2 separate regions of the Homo sapiens genome follow, and region 2 is linked to region 1. Evidence: fine-mapped expression QTL. A gene starts in region 1. The other region holds a variant in brackets. All regions are shown on one strand. Distances are between the middles of the regions. Region 1 holds the start of TOR1A (torsin family 1 member A). Region 2 has its middle 11 kb from the start of TOR1B.

Evidence for each region.
Region 2: its variant is fine-mapped to the expression of TOR1A in whole blood (TOPMed, PIP above 0.99).

The regions. Positions count from the first base shown.
Region 1 is chr9:129,818,709-129,830,972 of GRCh38, reverse strand. TOR1A (torsin family 1 member A) reads left to right here and starts at 6,837. Exons shown (of 5, transcript NM_000113.3): 1 at 6,837-7,065; 2 at 8,127-8,392; 3 at 12,053-12,228. The coding sequence starts at 6,888. It overlaps C9orf78 (chromosome 9 open reading frame 78), which reads left to right. Exons shown (of 9, transcript NM_016520.3): 6 at 1-102; 7 at 1,432-1,568; 8 at 1,670-1,768; 9 at 2,721-3,683. The coding sequence ends at 2,812. RefSeq lists silencers at 2,629-2,923, 7,363-7,452 and an enhancer at 6,643-6,952.
Region 2 is chr9:129,786,397-129,798,660 of GRCh38, reverse strand. It overlaps the pseudogene UBE2V1P4. Among named protein-coding and RNA genes, the nearest start is that of TOR1B, 11 kb to the left of the region's middle. RefSeq lists a silencer at 7,937-8,231 and an enhancer at 8,222-8,411. The variant G/A (reference allele first, on the strand shown) is at 5,920.

The DNA of each region.
Region 1 (12,264 bases):
TGAACTTCCAGAAAACATCCGTGTTTCCTCAGCAAAGAAGACCGAGGAGATGCTTTCCAACCAGATGCTGAGTGGCATTCCTGAGGTGGACCTGGGCATCGAGTATGTTTGAGACCCCTAGGCAGAAGACACAGTGCTTTCCAGTTAAAAGTTATGGGGGACAGGCCAGGCACGGTGGCTCATGCCTGTAATCCTAGCACTTTGGGAGGCTGAGGCGGGTGGATCACGAGGTCAGGAGTTCAAGACCAGCCCGGCCAAGATGGTCGAACCCCGTCTCTACTAAAAATACAAAAATTAGCTGGGCATGGTGGCAGGCACCTGTAGTCCAGCTACTTGGGAGGCTGAGGCAGGAAATTGCTTGAACCCTGAAGGTGGAGGTTGCAGTGAGGCGAGATCATGCCACTGCACTCCAGTCTGGCGACAGAGCAAGACTCCATCTCAAAAAAAAAGGAAAAAAAAATTTATGGGGGACAGGTATGGTGGCTGATGCCTATAAGCCTATAATCCCAGTACTTGGGAGGCCAAGGCAGGAGGATCACGTGAGGCCAGGAGATCAGCCTGAGAAATATAGTCAGACTCCTGTCTCTCAAAAAAATTTAAAAAATTAGCTGGGCTGTCACTTGAGCTCAGGAGTTGAGGCTACAGTGAGCCATGATTGCACCACTGCACACCAGTCTGGGTGACAGAGTAAGACCCTTTAAAAAAAAAAAAAAAAGGCCAGACATGGTGACTTGTGCCTGTTATCCTAGCTCTTTGGGAGGCCAAGGTGGGAGGATCACTTGAGCCCAGGAGTTCAAGACCAGCCTGGGCAATGTAATGAGACCCCATGTTCTTATCTGTGTCCTTAGAATCCTACAAATACAAATGAGATTGTCCCTGGCAGGTTGTTGCTAGAAGTTTCGCTGAAGGCTTGATCAGAGTAGTAAGGGCCCCTGACTGCTGGAAGCAAAAGTGGTTCTTTAGCGTGTTACAGCTGTTCAGCTGTATCAGGCCCTTTATTCTTCTGTTTTCTTCTAGCAGGAGCCATGTTAAAGGCTCACTCACCCCTTCTCCCCATGATCCTTCTTAAAATATCCACTTTAAAAGGGAATTGTTATGGAAGAGGTACAATTGTTAGAATAATCTTCTGGTACAGTAGAAAGCTGGGAGGCTTCTGGGCTCTTTTCTGGCCTTTACAAACTTTGAGCCTTAAGCATTTTACTTCTCTGAAGCTCAATTTGCTCTTGATCAGAAGAGCAGAGTAACTGTGGTTCTCCGACAGCCGTGAGAGTCCCGTGAGAATGTGACTACAAGTGTGCTTGATAAAGTGGAGAGCTGTGCCCCAGGACACATGATTTTCTTATGTACTGCTGGGCTGCCAGCCTCACCACTCATGTCTGAGTAGTAAGGTGCTATCATCTTCTAAGTGGTGTGGTTTCTTTCTCTCCATAGTGCTAAAATAAAAAATATCATTTCCACGGAGGATGCCAAGGCCCGTCTGCTGGCAGAGCAGCAGAACAAGAAGAAAGACAGCGAGACCTCCTTCGTGCCTACCAACATGGCTGTGAATTATGTGCAGCACAACAGATGTAAGCCCCTCGGAGAGCAGTCTTGCCCCCATTCCCCTATTTGGGCTGAGATCCCTAGGAACCTCATGTTCTAACGTGTCCCCTGGTCTCTTTGGGTCCAGTTTATCATGAGGAGCTCAACGCGCCCATACGGAGAAACAAAGAAGAGCCCAAGGCCCGGCCCTTGAGAGTAGGTGACACGGAGAAGCCAGAGCCTGAGCGTGAGTGCAACAAAGGCCTCGGGGCTGCCTGGAGTGCTCAGCAATGTGGGAACCCATGGAGGCAGGATGCAGCGGGGGACAGGGTGGAGCCTGGCATTGGAGCCGGGGCATATGGGTTCCAGTCCATGCTCTGGACCATGACTATGTGCCTTCCCCTTTCTAAGCCTCAGTTTCCTCATTGGAATCCTAATAGAACCTACCTGTTAGGATTACTCTGAGAATTCATACTCTCTCATATTCTCACGCACAGTAGAGACTCAAGAAGTTAGAAAATTTCAGTAAGGACAAATAAAAGCTACTCATAAGGTTAGCTGGGTGCAGTGCCTCACACTTGTAGTCTCAGCTGCTGGGGAAGCTGGGACAGGAGGATTGCTTGAGACTAAGAGTTCAAGGCTGCAGTGAGCTATGATTGGACCACTGCACTCTAGCCTGCGTGACAGAGTGAGACCACATCTTTTTTTTAAAGAAAAGAAAAAGGTATTGGCCATGCTCGGTGGCCCATGCCTGTAATCCCAGCACTTTGGGAGGCAGAGGCAGGCAGATCACCTAAGGTCAGGAGTTCAAGACGAGCCTGGCCAACATGGTGAACCCCGTCTCTACTAAAAATACAAAAATTAGCCAGGTGAGGTGGCAGGTGCCTGTAATCCCAGCTACTCAGGAGGCTGAGGCAGGAGAATCACTTGAACTCGGGAGTTGGAGGTTGCAGTGAGCTGAGATCATGCCATTACACTCTAGCCTGGGCAACAGGGTGAGACTCCATCTCAAAAAAAAGAAAAGAAAAGAAAAAAAAAAAGACAAATACGTATCTACTGAGGCCCTACTGTGTTCACTGGGTTAGGCGCTGGGGCTCCTGTGGGGAAGGAAACAGGCAGTTGTCTTTGCCTGCATGGAGTAAAGTCTAGCAGTGGGTTCCAGCATGGCAAACCACCTTTCCTGTTCTTTTCCTTCTCAGGGTCCCCTCCTAACCGCAAGCGTCCTGCTAACGAGAAGGCAACTGATGACTATCATTATGAGAAGTTCAAGAAAATGAATAGGCGGTACTGAGTTGTGCAGAGTGGGATGTAAATATCGCCTTCCTCTCCCTATATCCCTCCCATGAAAAATGGCTTCCTGGCCGGGCGTGGTGGCTCCTGCCTGTAATCCCAGCACTTTGGGAGGCCGAGGTGGGCGGATCACCTGAGGTCGGGAGTTTGAGACCAGCCTGACCAACATGGAGAAACCCAGTCTCTACTGAAAATACAGAAAAGTTAGCCAGGCGTGGTGGCACATGCCTGTAATCCCAGCTGCTCAGGAGGCTGAGGCAGGAGAATTGCTTGAACCCAAGAGGCGGAGGTTGTGGTGAGCCGAGATTGCACCTTTGTACTCCAGCCTGGGCAACGAGCAAAAAACTCTGTCTCAAAAAAAAAAAAAAAAAAAAAAAAGAAAAAGAAAAATGGCTTCCAGGACAGAGCATGCTCATTTGCTGGCGGACAGTTCCAGAAACAGACCCTGTTAGTCCTTCTACTTACCTGCTGGATTTTTCAAGCACTAAATTTATAACTTTTTGAAACAAAATAATGTGTAATTTTCCATTTGGGGGCAAACTCTATTCTTGTGAGCATTATTAAATCTTGTTTGTAAATATATTGTCTTTCTCTTAATATTTGCTCTGGGTCAGGAAGAAGCTGTTCACGGTGTGATAATACTCTTTAGATTGTGCTTTCATTATTATAGATGCATCATGTCTTCTGCTTTCACGTGTCTGGGATGGGGTCAGAAATGCATCCTCCAGCTGACAGAAAAATCCAGGATGAGATCAGAAGGATACTGGTGTTTTCTGACTTTTACAAAATTACTTGTTTGTTTTCATTAAAAAAAAAGCATAAACTATGTTTCTTATTACTATTAGAATTATTAAATTTCAAAATGAATCCAACCTTATTGTTTGTATTATGTTTCTTATACCAGCATCAGGTAATGTTTTTAAAGCCCATGGTTTGGGTAGCCTAAATGTAAAACTGAATTACTGAGATGGATTTTCTCATTTATTTCAAACAGTGAGCTATGATTGGACCACTGCAGCATAGACATGCTGCAACCTGCTGTCAAGTACCTTCTTACCTGTGCCCTCATTTTTCCTGAGGCATCCACAGGGGTCCAAAAGAGGAAAGAGCAGATTGGCTGACTTCTGGGTGGATTTAGAGCAGGTATTGTGGTTACAGTGGTTTGGCCCAGGAGTCAGATCTGAGCCCACCTCGCAGCTTACTACTTGTGTCCTTGGACAGATCCTTTTCACTCTTAGCCTCAGTTTTCTCATCTGTAAAATGGAGATTTTTTTTTTTCCTCCACTTGAATATGGTCAGTGAAGGCAGGAACCATGTGTGCCTAATTTTTAAATTTGAATCCCCAGGGCATAGCCCATAATCTGACAGATAGGCAGTCCTCAAAACTATGAATGATCCCTATAGTGTTTGGCTTGTAACAGGTGCACAAAAGTATTTTAAATCCAATACGAAAAAGTCGAAACTTAAAAAATATTTTCAGGATATTTCAACAAACATTTACAGGTCCCAGCGATGTGCAGGGGTAACCCAAGATGAATACTAAAGGCCTAGCACATCTGGCACACAGCAACGCAACACGTGTTTATGGGATGAACAGGCAAATAAGTGGATGGTCAACAGTTCTCACTTGCCAGAGTTCCCTTTGCTAGAAAATGAGTAATCTTTTATCCAGCTTAAAAGTGGCTGCCAGATGGAGGGAGCTGGTTCTCTCACTGTTGGGGTGGGAATTCACAGATAAACAAGGGGAGGAGGCTCCAATGATCTGTGTAATGGATTAGAGTTGGAGATGTCAGCACGAGCTCATGTTTAGCTTAATATAGGTACAGATGTTTACCTATAAAAATATTTATAGATATGTGTGTGTTTAACAGTATATACACACATTTTTTTCTGTCAGCTGAGACTGAAAGAAATGACATCTCAATAGCAAGAAGCACACCTAGCACCCAGACCTTGGTTTCTCTTTTTTTTTTTTTTTTTTTTTTTTGATACGAAGTCTCGCTCTGTCACCCAGGCTGGAGTGCAGTGGTGCGATCTCGGCTCACTGCAACCTCCACCTCCCAAGTTCAAGGAATTCTCCTGTTTCAGCCTCCCATGTAGCTGAGACTACAGGCACACGCAACCATGCCTAGCTAATTTTTTTGTATTTTCAGTAGAGATGGGGTTTCACCATATTGGTCAGGCTGGTCCCAAACTCCTGACCTCAGGTGATGCACCTGCCTCAGCCTCCCAAAATGCTGGATTACAGGCATGAGCCACCATGCCCAGCCAGTTTCTAATGCCATTTTACAATGAAAGGAATCAGGGTTCCTCGTAGAAAATAGGATTCTAGGACTGGGGCAGGAAATACAAGATGAGCCCGGAGTATCCTGTAGTGTCAGAAAGGAAAGAGGCACTCAAACCCAAATAAGCTGGTATATACACTGGGTGTATGTCAAAGGAGCACAAGGAACCACTCAAATTCCCAGTGGCCAAAATGAGAACAATTTGAAAAAAAAATTAGTACTGTAGTATAACAAAGGATAAAATAACAATGGTCCACACTGATATAAATGATTGAATACATGGGGGAGAAGAAACAAATCTCCCATGCAGAATTCCAAATAATTTCTGTAGATACTCTGCCCCCAAGGAGGTGGAGCAAAATCCCCGACTCCTTACGTGTGGGCTGTGCATGGGGACGTCCTTCCAAAGAGTACAGTAGAGAAAAGAGGGGTGGGGGGACCTGACAAACACTACTTCAGTCAAGTGATCAAGTCAGCACCAACAGTGGTAAGTAACGTTGAACAGTAAGAACCCTTCCTTGGTAGGATGTGATGAGCATAGCACTTTACCTCTGTGATCTTCCTTCCAAAACGCCATAACGCTTGTCTAATCCTGAGAAAAACATCAAATCCCAATAGAGGGCCAGCCCACCAAAGATTTGGCCAGTACTCCTCAAAACTATCAAGGTCATCAAAAATAAAAAGCTGAGGCCAGGCGCGGTGGCTCACGCCTGTAATCCCAGCACTTTGGGAGGCTGAGACGGGCAGATCATGAGGTCAGATCAAGACCATCCTGGCCAACATGGTGAAACCCCGTCTCTACCAAAAATACAAAAATTAGCCGGGCATGGTGGTGTGTGCCTGTAATCCCAGCTGCTCAGGAGGCTGAGACAGGAGAATCGCTTGAACCTGGGAGGCAGAGGTTGCAGTGAGCTGAGATCATGCCACTGCACTCCAGCTAAAATAAAAATAAAAGGCTGAGACACTGTCATTAACAGTAGTCTAAGACATGACAACGAAATATAATGTGGTATCCTGAATGGAAACCTGCAGCAGAAAAAGGCATTAAGTAAAAGGAAGGAAATCTGAATAAACTACACTTTAGTTAATATGACAACAGTGCATCGTTAATTTTAACAAATGTAGCACACTAATAATGTAAGATTTTAGTAATAGGGGAAATTGCAGGGATGGGTGGCACATGGGAACTCTCTACTATCTTCTCAATTTTTCTGTAAATCTGTTCTAAAAAATAACGTCCGTTATTATTATTATTATTATTATTATTATTTGCGGGGAGGGGACACAGTCTTGCTCTGTCTCCCAGGCTGGAGTGCAGTGGTGAGATCTCGGCTCACTGCAATCTCCGCCTCCTGGGTTCAAGCGATTCTCATGTGTCAGCCTCCCCAGTAGCTAGGGCTACAGGTGCCTACCACCACACCCGGCTAATTTTATATTTTTAGTAGAGACGTGGTTTCACCATGTTGGTCAGGCTGGTCTCGAACTCCTGACCTCAGGTGATCCGCCCGCCTCAGCCTCCCAAAGGGCTGGGATTACAGGCAGGAGCCACCATGCCTGGCAAAAATAACGTCCATAAACAAAAACACGTGGCCAACAGGGGCGGAGCAGAACCGAGTTTCCGGAAGCAAAACAGGGCTTTGTACCGAACAAAGATGGCGGCCGCCGGCGTCGGGAGGAGGGCTGCCCTGAAGAAAGATGGCCTCCGCGAGAGGAGGAACCGGAAGCGTGGGTCTGGCGGCTGCACCGGTTCGCGGTCGGCGCGAGAACAAGCAGGGTGGCGCGGGTCCGGGCATGAAGCTGGGCCGGGCCGTGCTGGGCCTGCTGCTGCTGGCGCCGTCCGTGGTGCAGGCGGTGGAGCCCATCAGCCTGGGACTGGCCCTGGCCGGCGTCCTCACCGGCTACATCTACCCGCGTCTCTACTGCCTCTTCGCCGAGTGCTGCGGGCAGAAGCGGAGCCTTAGCCGGGAGGGTAGGCTGGGGCGGGGGCTGGAGGCTGGGGCTGGGGCTGGGGCTGGGCGATGGCACTAGGGCTGAACTAGGACCAGGGCATGGAGAATGGAGGATGGAGGCCGGGGGATGGCACCAGGGCCGGGCTAGGACTAGGGCTGGAGCGGGGCCTGGGGGCTGGGGCTGGGCGATGGCACTAGGGCCGGGTTGGGGCTGGGGCTGGGGCTGGGGGATGGAGCGGGGCCCGGGGGCTGGGGGTGGGGCTGGGGGATCGCACTAGGGCTGGGTTAAGACCAGGGCGGTTGGCTGGGGCTAGGGGATTGAGGATGGTGGATGGAGGCTGGGGGATGGCAGTAGGGCCGGGCTAGGACTGGGGCTGGAGCGGAGTTTGGGGGCTGGGGCTCAGGAGCGGGGGCTGGGGCTGGGGCTGGGGCTGGGGGATGGCACTAGGGCCAGGCCGGGGTAGGGGTCACATCCCAGGAGGGCCGGGCCTGGGCAGAGCTGAGTCCGCGGGGGCCGGACCCCGGAAGCCAAGCGGCCGGCCTGCAGGATGAGGCCTGGCTCCTCGGCCATGACCACAGACGTGCCAGACTTAAGTCGGAGACCTGAGGAGCCAGGCTGCAGGTTGGCCTACTTTGCGCTAAGCTGGGGGTGGACCAGTGGTAACCTCCCTCCGAAGTGGGTTCTGCCTCCTTTCTAGCCTAGCGGGAGACAGGAAGGATGGTGAGGACTCTTCCGCAGCCGACCAGGAGGGACCAAACTGTTTCCTTTCCCGGCTCTGCCTTGGGGTGGGAGGAGCAGCACAGGGGTTAGGGGTGCAAACTGGTGGCAGTGGCAGTGGCACCAAGGGGCTTTTCGGGAAGGAGTCGGGCCAGGGCTTTAGAATAGGCAGGACCAGCAAAGGGAGGGCTCCCTGGACCGCCGTCCCCTCTGGGCCAGGAGCTTACAGACCGCAGTACTTGAGGTTTCGCAAGGTGCTTGGAGGGCGTCTAGACGGCTTTGCTGGCTTTCTTATGGGCTGTAAATGTGGCTACATTTTGCCGCTGTTTCTTCCCCACTCCTGATTGGCTTTGTCTTTCCCAGCACTGCAGAAGGATCTGGACGACAACCTCTTTGGACAGCATCTTGCAAAGAAAATCATCTTAAATGCCGTGTTTGGTTTCATAAACAACCCAAAGCCCAAGAAACCTCTCACGCTCTCCCTGCACGGGTGGACAGGCACCGGCAAAAATTTCGTCAGCAAGATCATCGCAGAGAATATTTACGAGGGTGGTCTGAACAGTGACTATGTCCACCTGTTTGTGGCCACATTGCACTTTCCACATGCTTCAAACATCACCTTGTACAAGGCAAGGATGGAAGTTTGGAATCCCTTCCTGGATGTCATCGGGTTTGGGGTCTCTTTGTTGTGGGATGAGATTTGGGAGTTCTATGTTGAAATGAGTGAGCCCGGAAAACGGTTCATGTCTCAGTTCCCCTTGGAAAGGTGTAGAAGTTAAGAGTTTGAGATGCGTGGAGCAGTTAATACCATCAAAGCTTTGTGGTGGGTTCTGAAAATCGGTCCAGTGAGTATGTAGGGTCATGGGATTTTAGAGGTGGACATGATCAAATCCATCTTAGAGATCAACACATCTCACTCATTTTTTTATTTTTTTCTTTATTTTGAGACGGAGTTTCACTCTTCTTACCCGGGCTGGAGTGCAATGGCATGATCTCAGCTCACTGCAACCTCTGCCTCCCGGTTGAAGCAATTATCCTGCCTCAGCCTCCCGGGTAGCTGGGATTACAGGGTCCTGCCACCATGCCCAGCTAATTTTTGTATTTTTAGTAGAGATGGGGTTTTGCCAACTTGGCCAGGCTGGTCTCGAACTCCTGATCTCAGGTGATGTGCCTGCCTCAGCTTCCCGAAGTGCTGGGATTACAGGCGTGAGCCACCATGCCTGGCCACATCTCACTCATTTTGTGAAAGAGGAAACATGTAGAGTCCTAAGTTTGTTGAACCTACTGTTGTAAACTGCCTTTTTTTTTTTTTCTTTGAGTCAGGGTCTCACTCTGTTGTCCAGGCTGGAGTGCAGTGACGCCATCTCAGCTCACTACAGCCTCCACCTTCCCGGTTCAAGCGATTCTCCTGCCTCAGCCTCCCAAGTAGCTGTGACTACAGGCATGTGCCACCACAGCCGGCTAATTTTTGTATTTCTAGTAGAGATGGGGTTTCCTCACATTGGCCAGGCTGGTCTCGAACTCCTGACCTCAAGTGATCTGCCTACCTCAGCCTCCCAGAGTGCTAGGATTACAGGCGTGAGCCACCTTGCCCAGCCGCAAACAGCTTTTATGGTTGAACTCACTGATGAGCAGCTTGGGCTTTGGCAGCAGACACATCTGGATTTGAGTCCTAACACTCTCCCAGCTCCGTAGTCTTAGGAAAGTTGCCTGACCTGAGACTCAGATTCTGACTTACAAAGTGTTGCTTGTAACAATCCAGGGAGCTCTGTCTGTCAAGTGCATAACATGTACCTGGTGCATGTTACAAATAAATGTTAACTGTTGCCTTTTAGATCCTTGTAGCAGACCTGCAAGATGGGCAAAACAGTCAATTATTTATTTATTTATTTTTGAGACTGAGTTTCATTCTTGTCACCCAGGCTGGAGTGCAGTAGCACCATCTGGATCTTGATCTCGGCTCACCGCAAACTCTGCCTCCCGGATTCAAGTGATTCTGCTGCCTCAGCCTCCCAAGTAGCTGGTATTACAGGCACCTGCCACCACACCCAGCTAATTTTTGTATTTTTAATAGAGACAGGGTTTCACCTTGTTGGCCAGGCTGGTCTCAAACTCCTGACCTCAAGGTCATCCAGCTGTCTCTACTTCCCAAAGTGCTGAAATTACAGGTATGAGCCACCATGCCTGGCCTCAATCAGTTATTTATCCCTGACTGTATCTATGGAAAAATGTGAACACATTTTTCCCTTCTGTCTGGGTGAGCGTGTGGGTCACCCACTGTCCAGCGGTTCTGTACTAAAATGCGAATGTTCCACGGGTGTGGTGGCTCATGCCTATAATTCTAGCACTACGGGAAGCCAAAACCGGCTGATCCCTTGAGCTCAAGAGTTCCAGACCAGCCTGGGGAACATGGTGAAACCCCATCTCTACTAAAAAAATACAAAAAAATTAGTCAGGCATGGTGGCATGCACCTGTAGTCCCAGCTACTTAGGGGGCTGAGGCAGAAGGATGGCTTGAACCTGGGAGGTCGAGGCTGCAGTGAGCAGACAGCCACTGCAGTCCAGCCTGGGTGACGGAGTGAGACCCTGTCCCAAACAAACAAGAACCATTCTAGACGAATCAGGATAAGTTGATCATCTTAGAATTGAGGCTTCACTAACAATAACTGTGACTTTGGGCAAAGTTACTTCACTTGTCTGTGCCTCAGTTTTCTCATTTGTAAAAGAAGGAGCACAATGGTAACTACCGTGATGGGTTTTGGGAGGTCACAGTAAAATGTTCTATGAACAGACCAGGTGTGGTGGCTCGCGCCTGTAATCCCAGCACTTTGGGAGGCCGAAGCGGGTGGATCACAAGGTCAAGAGTTCAAGACCAGCCTGGCCAAGATGGTGAAACCCCATCTCTACTAAAAATACAAAAATTAGCTGGGCGTGGTGGCAGGTGCCTGTAGTCTCAGCTACTCAGGGGGCTGAGGCAAGGGAATCGCTTGAATCTGGGAGGCAGAGGTTGCAGTGAGCTGAGATCATGTCATTGCACTCCAGTCTGGGTAACAGAGCGAGACTGTCAAAAAAAAAAAGTTATATGAACAGTGCTTAGAATATTGTTGTTCCCATAGTGAACACTCAGTGCATGTTCCCTGTTATTGCATATAAGTTTGGTCACCAGAGTGAGAAACCTTGGCTGCTGGAGCCTAACAGGTCTGAGTGAATCCTTGTTTATTTTATTTATTTATTTTATTTTATTTTATTTATTTATTATTATTATTATTTTTTTTTTTTGAGACGGAGTCTTGCTCTGTCTCCCAGGCTGGAGTGCTGGAGTGCAGTGGGGTGATCTTAGCTCACTGCAACCTCCACCTCCCAGGTTCCAGCGATTCTCAAGCCTCAGCCTCCCAAGTACCTGGGATTACAGGCGCCTGCCACTATGCCTGGCTAATTTTTGTATTTTTTTTTTTAATGGAGTCTTGCTCTGTCGCCACGCTGGAGTGCAATGGCTTGATCTTGGCTCACCGCAACCTCCGCCTCCCAGGTTCATGCAATTCTACCTCAGCCTCCTGAGTAGCTGGGACTATAAGCACCTGCCACCATACCCAGCTAATTTTTTTGTATTTTTTTTAGTAGAGACCAGGTTTCACCATGTTGGCCAGGCTGGTCTTGAACTCCTGACCTCAGGTGATCCACCCACTTTGGCCTCCCAAAGTGCTGGGATTACAGGCATGAACCACCATGCCTGGCCCTAATTTTTGTATTTTAATAGAGATGGGGTTTCACCATGTTGGCCAGGCTGGTCTCAAACCCCTGACCTCAACTTATCCGTCTGCCTCAGCCTCCCAAAGTGCTGGGATTACAGGTGTGAGCCACCATGCCCGACCCCACCCCCTTTTTAAATAAAAATCAGTATCCTCATGACATCCCACATTGCCCCTTTGATGACAAAAGAGCAGCATCTCTGACAGCATCCGTGTGGCATCTCGCAGTGCGGGAACCGTAACCAAAGTATCGGGCTTTGGAGTGAGACAGGACTGGGTTCAGGTCCCAGCTCTGCCACATATAGTCTTGGGCAAGTGGAGTAAGCGCTCTCTGTGCCTCAGTTCCCTCATCTGTAAAATGAGAACGATAGTGCCCACTCCATGGGGTTGGTAGGAACAAAGAAGATTTTGGGCATGTAAAGTTCTTAGTGCCGAGTGCACAGTGGTCTGTAAGTGAAGCTGCGGTTCTTAGTGGTAGAAGGAGCTGATTGATGGCCCTGGCTGAGAACTTTGTGTTCGCTTTTTCCCCTTTTAATTCAGGATCAGTTACAGTTGTGGATTCGAGGCAACGTGAGTGCCTGTGCGAGGTCCATCTTCATATTTGATGAAATGGATAAGATGCATGCAGGCCTCATAGATGCCATCAAGCCTTTCCTCGACTATTATGACCTGGTGGATGGGGTCTCCTACCAGAAAGCCATGTTCATATTTCTCAGGTAAGGTCAGGGCTAGGACATGATGGATGGGCCCCG
Region 2 (12,264 bases), 32 kb after region 1:
GAGTGAGACTCCATCTCAAAAAAAAAAAAAAAAAAGGCTTGAGGGGCTGGGCACAGTCACTCACGCCAATCATCCCAGCATTTGGGGAGGCAGGTGGATCATTTAAGGCCAGGAGTTCAAGACCAGCCTGGCTAACATGGTGAAACCCTGTCTACTAAAAAATACAAAAAATAGCCAGGTGTGGTATCGGGTGCCTGTAATCCCAACTACTCGGGGGGCTAAGGCAAGAGAATCACTTGAGCCTAAGAGGTAGAGGTTGCAGTGAGCCGAGATCGTGCCACTGCACTCCAGCCTGGGCAACAGAGCAAGACTGTCTCAAAAAAAGGGCTTGAGGGAACTAGCTCGACCCTTCCACTTCTGCCTCGTGAGGACACAGCAAGAAGGCACCATTTTGGAAGCAGAAGGCAACCTTCACCAGGCACCAAATCTGCTGGCATCTTGATCTTGGTCTCCCCAGCCTCCAGAACTGTGAGAAATAAATTTCTTTTTAATTGTTTTTTCTTTTTAAAAAAATTTTGGCCAGGCGTGGTGGCTCATGCCTGTAATCCTAGCACTTTGGAAGGCCTCGGCAGGCGGATCACTTGAGATCAGGAGTCTGAGACCAGCCTGGCCAACATGGCAAAATCCCGTCTCTACTAAAAATACAAAAATTAGCCAGGCATAGGGGTGCACACCTGTAATCCCAGCTACTCAGGAGGCTGACGCAGGAGAATCCCTTGAACCCGGGAGGCGGAAGTTGCAGTGAGCCCAGATCGTGCCACTGCACTCCAGCCTGGGCCACAGTGTGAGACTCCTTCTCAAAAAAAAAAAAAAGTTTGTAACCTATTTATGTTATTTTGAGCAATTGTATACTAAAAATAATCCAAAAGAAATATTTAATACCTAGGGTTTTGTGGTCACCAGAAAAAAAAAAAAAAACTATATTAGGTTTTATAGTTTTAGGCCGCACCGGGCCTATGTTAAGTTTTCATTTGTAGTATATACATATTTTTGTTGCAGAGAAATAAGATAGCATGATCAATAAGACTGTTAGGCAAAAAAAAAAAAAAGGGGAAGAAAAAAATTTCATTAACATGACATTTGATGAGAGAGTGGAATGGAAATACGGGTTCTAGTACAAAAAAGATCATAAGTGTCTGACTTGTTCATGTGTTTGATACATGGATGGGAGGTTACATTGCTGTGGCATCTAGATTCCACCGAGTAATTAGACAAGCAATGCAACAGTGTTATCTTTTTTTTTTTTTTTTTTTTTTTGAGATGGAGTCTCGCTCTGTCACCCAGGCTGGAGTGCAGTGGCGAGGTCTCGGCTCACTGCAAGCTCCGCCTCCCGGGTTCACGCCATTCTCCTGCCTCAGCCTCCCAAGTAGCTGGGACTACAGGCGCCCGCCACCACACCCAGCTAATTTTTTTTTTTTTTTTTTGGATTTTTAGTAGAGACGGGGTTTCACCGTGTTAGCCAGGATGGTCTCGATCTCCTGACCTCGTGATCCGCCCGCCTCGGCCTCCCAAAGTGCTGGGATTACAGGTGTGAGCCACCGCGCCCGGCCCTACAGTGTTATCTTAAAGTGCAAAAATTATGTCTTTTGTGACCATTTAAACTCACAATGGGCAGGGCGAGGTGACTCACGCCTGTAATCCCAGCACTTTGGGAGGCCGAGGGGGACAGATCACCTGAGGTCAGGAATTCCAGACCAGCCTGGCCAGCATGGTGAAACCCCATCTCCACTAAAAATACAAAAATTAGCCAGACATGGTGGCATGTGCACCTGTAATCCCAGCTACTCGGGAGGCTGAGACAGGAGAATCTCTTGAATCTGGCAGGTGGAGGTTGCAGTGAGCCAAGATTGCGTCACTGCACTCCAGCCTGGGCAACAGGGTGAGACTCCATCTCAATAAATAAATAAATAAACTCACAATGAAAATTTTCAATGTTAATCTGATGTGTGAGCAAAAATGTGTGACAACCTCTGCCCAAATCATGCTCTGCCTGGCAGCCCCTTCCCCCTCCATCCTCCCGTCCGCGTCATGCTTTTTCTTGCAGGTGCTAGAAACCCCCTTCTGAATCAGCAGCTGCCAGGGAGGGACTTTGGAACTGATCTGGAGCCTGCATCCTGGCTAAATGGTATCCTCCCTCCCTGCCACCAGCCTCCTAGGTTGCTGCTGCTTCCCCGTCTCCCCACTTAAAATCCTGAGAGGCTCCTAGGCTCAGTTCCAGATCTTCTTTCTCTCCCCTCTCTCCCTGGGTGAGAGGCCCCCAACTTTCTCCAGGACCCATACCTGGCCACACCCAGGACACCTCTGGCTATTCCCTAGACAGCCCAGTAGCTGCACAGTTGAAATGGGAGCCTTGGTCACTTTCCCCAAACATGTCCCTCCCAGGAACACTTGAGCTCAGGAGTTTGAGACCAGCCTGGGCAACATAGCGAGACCCCATCTCTACAAAAAATACAAAAATTAGTCAGGCATGGTAGCTTGCACCTGTGGTCCCAGCTACTCAGGAGGCTGAGGTGGGAGGATCACCTGAGCCCAGGAGTTTGCAGTGAGCTGTGATTGTGCTGCTGCACTCCAGCCTGGGCAACAGAGTGAGACTCTGTCTCAAAAAAAAAAAAGTCCTTCCCACCGGGGTGTCTGTCACGGTAAGTGCAAACATCTTCACCCCATCCTCTCTGAGTCATTCTCCCTACAACAGGGACAGGTGGTCTTTTTACAAGGAACTGGGTCCTGCTATTCTTGCTTGGTACCTGTCGATGGCTTCCCAAAACCCTTGGGAAGAAAGGTGCCCTCCTTCCTCTGACCTCCCAGCCCCAGTGATGTGCACACTTTCCTCTCAGAGAGCCTTTCTCATCCCATAGCCTCCCTCGTTCTCATCCCACAGCCTCCCTCGTTCTCATCCCACAGGCTCCCTCGTTCTCAGGCCCCCCGCCCCTTCTCTCTCCTGCCTCGGAGTTTTCACATATAACGTGTTCTCAGCCTGGACTCTTGCCTCCAAGCCCCACACAGCTAACAGCTTCTAACCCTCAGCTCCAAGCCCACCTCCCCCGTCGACAGTAGACTTACTCCTACCCCCCAGGCACCTGCTCTCTCTCCTATCACCCCATCTGAGTCCTTGTTTATTGCCCTCCTCTCCCACTGCCACGAGAGCTTCAGGAGGGCAGGGACCTTGTCTTTTGTCCTCTGTGTCTCTAATTCCCAGAACTCTGACCAGGACACAGTAGGTGCTCCATAAATATGTGCTTGGTGTTCAAGGATAGAACACTCTCCAAGAGGACAGACTGATCTGCGGGCCAGGGATGCCTAAGGCCCTGCAGAGTAAGGGCCTGTCCCCACCATGAAGGACTGACCACACAAGGGCCAGGACATCCCCTTTGGGGACCCTCTGGGCATCTCTAATCCACCACAGGTCTCAGGAAACCTCTTCCCTGCTCCTCTCCTTCCCCTTGGAAATGAAAGGAGTTTACCTTAATTGAGCATCTAAGATTGAGCCAGGTGTCTTCATGACACCTTGTGAAACAAATGTTTCATTTGCAGGTGAGGGAACTACTGGGAGAAGCTAAGACAAGCCCCAGGCCAGGTGACTGCTCCAGGCCCAGCCTCTTCCCCTGACCTGCCACCTTCCCCAGGTGTCCTCCTGCTCCTCCCCATCCCATCCCTGCCTGTCCTGTTTCTCATACTCTAATGGGACTCGTTTCCCTGTTTGCTTGAATGTACGGTAACCTCGAAGGCAGGATTTGTTCTGTTCACCTGTAGTGCTTAGTGCGGTACTATGTCCAAGGCGTATGTCAAATATTTGTGAAAAACACACTCCCTTTCTGTCGGACAAAGAATTTTCCAAAATGCTGCCTCCGGAAGCAGACCCGCCTGAGTTTACATTCTGGCTGTCATGTTTCCTGTGTGACCCAGGGCAAGTCACCCACCTTCTCTGAGCCTCAGGCTTCTCATCCCTTCCAGTGCAGCGGGTTTAGTGCGGCTCCTATGTCATCATAAGCAAGTGCTGGGGGCCCTATGGCAGTGAACTCAATTTCTTTTGTGATCTCAGCTAAGTCCTTCTAGGTACTTTGCTTCAAAAACTCAAAAGCTAGCACCCCCAGGGGGGCTATTCTGCAGAGGTTAGGGAGGCTGCCTCCAAGCAGGCTCAATCTGATGGGCTTGGGGGACCTTTTCTCGGGCGGCAACTCTAGCCCCGTTACATGTCAGGAGTCGTGCCTTGGACATCTCTGCCTCTAGGGACCCCTCAGCAGTTCCACCACCCCAGGTACAGGAAAGCACAGTGGGGGTTTTCCATCCATGTTTCCTGCCCACCTCACATGTTTGGTGTCTTTTTTCTTTTTTTTGACATGGAGTTTTGTTCTTGTTGCCCAGGCTGGAGTGCAATGGCATGATCTTGGCTCATTGCAACCTCCGCCTCCTGGGTTCAAGCGATTCTTCTGCCTCAGCCTCCCGAGTAGCTGGGATTATAGGTACCCGCTGCCACACCCAGCTGATTTTTGTTTAGTAGAGATGGGGTTTCACCATGTTGGTCAGGCTGGTTTCAAACTCCTGAGCTCAGGTGATCCACCCGCCTCGGCCTCCCAACATGCTGGGATTACAGGCATGAGCCACTGCGCCTGGCTGTATAGTGAATTGTTTTTTTTTTTTTTGAGATGGAGTTTCACTCTTGTTGCCCAAGCTAGAGTGCAATGGCGCGATCTCGGCTCACAGCAACCTCCGCCTCCTGGATTCAAGCCATTCTCCTGCCTCAGCCTCCGGAGTAGCTGGTATTACAGGCATGCGCCATCCCCCCGGCTAATTTTGTATTTTTAGTAGAGATGGGGTTTCTCCATGTTGGTCAGGCTAGTCTCGAACTCCAGACCTCAGGTGGTCCGCCTGCCTCGGCCTCCCAAAGTGCTGGGATTACAGGCGTCAGCCACCGCGCCCGGCCTATATAGTGAAATTTTAAAGTGTATCAAAAGTTTCTATGATCATCATACTAGGTAGAATCAGCCATCACAAGAAGACAAACACTGTAAGATTCCACTTCTATGAGGTCCTTAGAGAAGTCAAAATCATACAGACAGAAAGTAGAAAGGTGGTTTCCAGAGGCTGGGGAAGGGGGGCTGTGGAGTTAGTGTTTAATGGAGACAAGAGCTTCAGTTTGGGAAGAGGAAAAGTTCTGGAGATGATTGGATGTCCAACAGGTGCATATGCTTAATGCCACTGAGTTGTACCCTGAAAAATGGTGAAGATGGTAAACTTTATATGATGTGTTTTTTAGCACAATTAAAATTCAAAAAAAATTTTTTTAAGTTCCTATGACCATGAGCCTCTGAATGTTAAAATTCCGAATTGAGTCAGCATTCCATTGATTACAGCTTGCCAAAATAGCACTGATATGTTTGTTTGTTTGTTTGTTTAGAGATAGGGTCTCACCCTGTCACCCAGGCTAGAGTGCAGTGGTGTGATCACCGCTCACTGCAGCTTCAACCTCTGAGGCAAAAGTGATCCTCCCACCTCAGCCTCCTGAGTAGCTTGGACTACAGGCGTGTGCCACTGTGCCCAGCTAATTTTTTATTTTTTGTAGAGATGGGTTCTCATTGTGTTGCCCAGGCTGGTCTCAAACTCCTGGGCTCAAGCAATCCTCCCGCCTCGGCCTCTAAGCGTTGGGATTACAGCCGTGAGCCACCATGCCCAGCAAAGGTATCTTTCAATAGATTTCAGGGTCCCACTTTCATGAAGAGCCACTGCTCTGCCCTGGTGCTGGTGGTGGTGGGATCTTGGCCTCTGTCACCCCTCCATTGATTGGCCTGAGGCAGTGACTTCCCAGGGTGCTGGAGCTGACCTCTTGGAGGTAGGTGGTCCTCAGGGAGGTCCAGGTGAAATTGGCTTAGCTGCTTTGTCACTGTGGGCACTGGTACTCCCCTCTCCTGGAAGATGGATGGT[G/A]GGAAGGGGGGTGCCTCTCTGCATTTTTCCCCATGTGGGCTCAGTAATCGCTTCCCAGTCCCCACAATTCGCTAAGCACCTGCTGCCCATCTCCCACTCTCTTAAGTAGCCAATTGCTCCATCAGTTGAAGTTCTTTGTTTCCAAACAACAGACGCTGACCGTGATTTGGGCTTTTTTAGGGTTTGTTAGAGGAGGTCAGGGTGACTCACAAAAATGTGAGAAATGACTGACCACATCTCAGGAAGAGCAGGGTCCCCGGGGTGTTGTCTAGGACTCAGGGGCAGGAGTTGGGGGACCTTTTGCTGGGACATTGCCCACAGGTGGATCAGGCTTGGCCACTTCCCATACCTGCATGCTTGGGTCCAACTTTGAGTTTGCAGAGAGAGGACCTGATTGGCCCAACCTGGGCTGGTTGACCTTGGATCAATGAGCCATGGGCTGGGGGTCGTTGTGCCTGGGTCTCCCCACCCCCAGTTAGTGCTACTGTAAATACTTGGATAACATTTTGTTCCCTTAAAAGTGTGGGTATTGGCCAGGCACGGTGGCTGATGCCTATAATCCCAGCACTTTGGGAGGCCGAGGCAGGCAGATCACCTGAGGTCAGGAGTTCAGGACCAGCCTGGCCAACATGATGAAACCCCATCTCTACTGAAAATACAAAAATTAGCCAGGTGTGGTGGCAGGTGACTGTAGTCCCAGCTACTCAAGAGGCTGAGGCAGGAGAATGGCGTGAACCCCAGGAGGTGGAGGTTGCAGTGACCCGAGATCGCACCACTGCACTCCAGTCTGGGCAACAGAGGGAGGCTCCATCTTAAAAAAAAAAACAAAACAAAACAACAACAACCAAAAAGAAAATTTACTGCTGTGAACAATGAAGACTGCTTAAGTCAAAAAGGCAAGAAGGACCTGTAGCTCTTCTTTTGGATTAGTTGCCATAACACTGTCCTTCAGGCAGCTGAGGGACTTTCACATTTTCTCTAGATGTCATTAGGTGCCAGAGCTCTTGCAGGACCACGTTGAAGCTTTATACAATAAATGCTGCCATTTTGTCAGCACCAATATGGCTCTTGGGTCCACTGCTCCATTCAAATTATTAACTCCGTTCACATTAATTCTTTTTTTTGAGACAGAGTCTTGCTCTGTTGTCCAGGCTGGAGTGCAGTGGTGCAATCTTGGCTCACTGCAACCTCTGCCTCCTGAGTTCAAGCGATTCTCATGTTTTAGCCTTCCGAGTAGCTGGGATTACAGGCGCCCGCCATCATGCCCAGCTAATTTTTAGTAGAGACGGGGTTTCACCATGTTGCCCAGGCTGGTCTTGAACTCCTGGCTTCAAGTGATCCACCCACCTCGGCCTCCCAAAGTGCTGGGATTGCAGATGTGAGCCATTGTGCCTGGTCTCATATTAATCTTTTTGTTACAAATCTTACCACGGGGGTGATTCCAGGTATTTAGGCCCACATTCTATTTTAAGACTGTATATTTGGTTTTCATAAATTGTCCGAGTCTGTGCTGGCTGTCGTCCTGTGTTGCTAGAAGGCCAGCATATTACTCATCTCACACTCGTTCCCATTCTCCTTACTCTTTCTTTCTTTCTTTCTTTTTTCTCTTTTTTTTTTCTTTAGATGGAGTCTCGCTCTCTCGCCAGGCTGGGGTGCAGTGGTGTGATCTCAGCTCACTGCAACCTCCACCTCCCGAATTCAAGCGATACTCCTGCCTCGGCCTCCCAAGTAGCTGGGATTACAGGCATGCGCCACCATGCCCGGCTAATTTATTTTTGTATTTTTAGTAGAGACGGGATTTCACCATGTTGGCCAGGATGGTCTCAATCTCTTGACCTTGTGATCCGCCCGCCTCGGCCTCCCAAAGTGCTGGGATTACAGGCATGAACCACTGCGCCTGGCCACTCTCCTTACTCTTTCTATCATTGCTGTCCAGAAGCATTGCCTATGACATTTAAATTGTCAATCCAAAACATTCAAAACTACCAGCTTACTCGTCGAGGCCATCATAAATGGAAAGAAGGCCTGGGAAAGGTGTGGAAGGGTGATTCAGCTGCAGAGAGGGCTCTGGACTTAGGTTTCGCAGCTGACTGTGACTTTCAGGACCAGAGACAGCGCCCCGGATCCACACCCATTTCCCACCCAGCGTCAGACTTGAGGATTTTAAAGAGAGGTGTCCTTGTGCTGATAGACGGGAAACTGCCCACAGCTGGGAGACTTCATGTGCTCACACCAAGAAGGCACTAGAGGGTGCTGGTGAGCTGCAGGTTTGAGGACCTGCAGCTGGGCTTATCTGCAACCTCCAGATGGGCTAAAAACAACAACAACTTAACAGAAAAAGTTCAAAAGTCTAGATTATTTAACATGTCAACAGTTCCACTGGGCGCTGTGGCTCACACCTGTAATCCCAATACGTTGGGGGGCCAGGGTGGGTGGATTGCTCGAGTCCAGGAGTTTGAGACCAGCCTGGGCAACATGGCGAAACCCCGTCTCTACTATAAACTACAAAATTTAGCCGGATGTGGTGGCGAGTTCCTGTAGTCCCAACTACCCGGGAGGCTGAGGTGGGAGGATTGCTTCAGCCTGGAGGTCAAGGCTGCAGTGAGCCGTGATCACGCCACTGCACTCCAGCCTGAAGGCAGAGCCAGACCCTGTCTCAAAAAAAAAAGTCAAAAGTTTACATTAAATTCTGTTCTCATCCAAATGTTAGTGCCTCTATCTTTCAGGGGGCCTTCCAAGGGGTACATGATATTTGGCATTCTCCTTTTCTTGTTTGGTATTTTGTGTATCAATATTACACAGTTTATTTCTATGCAACCTTTTTGTTTCGTCGTTTTGTTTTTTGAGACAGGGTCTCACCATGTTGCCCAGATTGGAGTGCAGTGGCTATTCACAGGTGTGATCATAGCTCACTGCAGCCTTGAACTCCTGGCTTCACACAATCCTCCTGCCTCAGCCTCCAGAGTAGCTGGGATTACACGTGCATGCCACCATGTGTGGCCTATTTCTATGAAATCTTTTTTTTTTAAATACAGGATCTCACTCTATCACCCAGGCTGGAGTGCAGTGATGGCTCAAGATCCCAGGCTCAGGCAATCCTCCCACCTCAGCCTCCGGAGTAGCAGGGATTATAGGCATGTGCCATCATGCCTGGCTAATTTTTGTATTTGTAGTAGAGACAGGGTTTTGCCATGTTGCCCAGGATGATGGTCTCGAACTCCTGAGCTCAGGCAATCCCCCTGCCTTGGCCTCTCAAAGTGCTGGGATTACAGGCATGAACCACTGAGCCCAGCCCTATTCCTATGAAATCTTAAGATCATAGAATATCGCATGTGCTTTCACACTGCTTTATTGAGGTATCATTGACACAGAACAAACTGCACATATTTAAAGTGTGCAATTTGCAGCGCCCAGCTCTACTAAAAATAGAAAAATTAGCTGGGTGTGGCGGCGAGCACCTGTAATCCCAGCTACTTGGGAGGCTGAGGCAGGAGAATCACCTGAACCCGGGACGTGGACTTGGCAGTGAGCCCAGATCGTGCCACTGCACTCCAGCCTGGGCGACAAGAGTGAAATTCCATCTCAAAAAAAAAAAGTGCAATTTGCTAAGTTTTGACATTTGTACGCACCCATGCAACCATCGCCACAAACAAGGTCGTGAACATACCCACCATGCCCAGAAGATTCCTTGTGCCACCTTGTCATCCCTTTCTCTTGTCTCTCCCCTCACGTTCTCTCCCTGTCAACCACCGATCTCGTTCTGTCACTATAGATTAGTATATTTGTTATAGATGGTTACAAATATTATTATTAGATAGATAGTGTTTTATTTATGAAATGCTTGCTCAGTGCCAGGCTCTGGGAGCGTTACAGTCATTATCTCATTTAAATCCAGAGCAACCCTGTGAGGTAGCGGATTGGAAATCTGCATTTTGCAGGCAAAGAAGGTGACTTGCAGAGAAATGAAGTCACTTGCCCAAGGGAGTTCCTAAACATCTAGAAAGTGCTGTTGGGAGGCCGAGGCGGGGGATCACGCGGTCAGGTGTTTGAGACCAGCCTGACCAACATGGTGAAACCCCATCTCTACTAAAAATACAAAAAATTAGCCGGGCATGGTGGTGCGCGCCTGTAATCCCAGCTGCTTAGGAGGCTGAGGCAGGAGAATTGCTTGAACCCAGGAGGCAGACATTGCAGTGAGCCGAGATAGCGCCACTGCACTCCAGCCTGGGCGACAGAGTGAGACTCCGTCTCAAAAAAAAAAAAAAAGAAAGAAAAGAAAAAAAGAAAGTGCTGGAGCCAGGACAGACGCTGGGCTCATGTGGGGGCTCCACCCCAGTGTCCTGACTCTTTCCCCCAACAGTCCAACAGGGAGGAGCACAATGCCTGGGTTCCAATTCCACCTCTGCCATGATCATGAACATGACCCTGGGCTGGTTGCCCAACCCCTCTAGGTCTCAGTTTCCTCGTTGGTGGCATGGTTGTCCTTACCTTATAGGGTTGCCTGAGGGTCACTTAAGATGATGAGTGTGGAGGCCTCTCAGCAGAGAGCTTTCAGGACAGACCAGTAAACAAGTGACCATGGTGTGGGATGCAAGTACGGTGAGACGGACGTGCAGGAATCTGAGATAATAAGGGGATGGCTAGCGGCCAGGCGCGGTGGCTCACGCCTGTAATCCCAGCACTTTGGGAGGCTGAGGCAGGCGAATCATGAAGTCAGGAGTTTGAGACCAGCCTGGCCAACATGGTGAAACCCTGTCTCTACTAAAAATACACAAAATTAGCCGGGTGTAGTGGCAGGTGCCTGTCATCCCAGCTACTTGGGAGGCTGAGGGAGGAGAATCTCTTGAACCTGGGAGGTGGAGGTTGCAGTGAGCTGAGATTTCACCACTGCACTCCAGCCCAGGTGACAGAGTGAGACTCCGTCTCAAAAAAAAAAATAGATAAATAAATAAATAAGGGGGTGGCTGTTGTGGGAGCCAAGTCTTCCAGGAAGTTCTCTCCTTGAACTCTGGGCCACTATCATCCATTCTACTCACGTTGGAAATGCATCCCCTATCTACTTGTGGCCGGGGGCTTCCTCTTTGTCAGGTGTTGGGACTCAACAGTCAATAAGAAAGACTTGGCACCACCCACCAGGACTCCCACCTGGTCGGGAGGTGGGGGCAGAGGGGCAAGTCCCCAGCAATTACAGTCCAGTGGGATCAGTGCTGTGCTGGGGGAAATACAGGCACATATTGTCCATTTTGCTTTCATAATCCCTCCAGGCTTCGTTCCTCCAAGCTCTCCCAACCTTACCTGAGATACTCCTGCTGTCCCATGGAGAATTCTTTATAAGTGCAGTATTGTTGAAATACACCCCAAGGACATTGCTACTGCTGCTGTTGAAAAGCTTCCTGTTCTTTGGGTTTGTGAATACACAGTACTCTGGTCTCCCACTATTGTTCCCTAACCAAGTGCCACCTCCAGCCCCAAACCGATCACAAACGGGATGGCCAAGCACTGGGCGTGGGAATAACCGGTCTGAAGCTCAGCCACGCCGCTATAGACTGTGTGACCTTGGCCGTCATTTATTTTCAATCAAGGCTCAGTTGTTCACCTGTGAGTTCTCTGCAGGATATGGTTATCCCTGAGCTGGCTTCTTCTTACCCTGAGACTTGCTCACGCCCGTTGACCTCCCGGTGGTTGTGGACTCAAAGGCTGTCAACCCACTTAGAAAGCAAAACATAGTGGGGAAAGGAAAGCTGCTGTCCAAAGGGATCACACACCACTGTCACGCGCTTCTGTGTGAAGAGTCCACTAACAGGCTTTGTGTGAGCAACAAGGCTGTTTATTTCAACTGGGTGCAGGCGGGCTAGTCCGAAAAGAGAGTCAGCAAAGGGTGGTGGGGTTATCATTAGTTCTTATGGGTTTGGGATAGGCAGTGGAGTTAGGAGCAATTTTTTTGTGGGCAGGGGGTGGATCTTAGGAAGTACATTCTCAAGGGCGGGGAGAATATTACAAAGTACCTTCTTAAGGGCGGTGGGCGGGGGAATATCACAAAGTGCATTATCACAAGGGCGGGGAGCGTGTATTGTCATAAGGTCAGTTGATCAGTTGAGGGTGGGGCAGGAACAGATCACAATGGTGGAATGTCGTCTTTTGTGGATCTTCAGTTGCTTCAGGCCATCTGGATGTATACGTGCCGGTCACAGGGGATATGATGGGTTAGCTTGGGCTCAGAGGCCCGACAACCACCAAGGTACCAATCCGAGGTTGCAGAAGGAGGTTAATGGGTTGTATCCATAGGGACTTTTTTTTTTTTTTTTTAAGAAACAGGTCTCACTCTCTTGCCCAGGCTGGAGTACA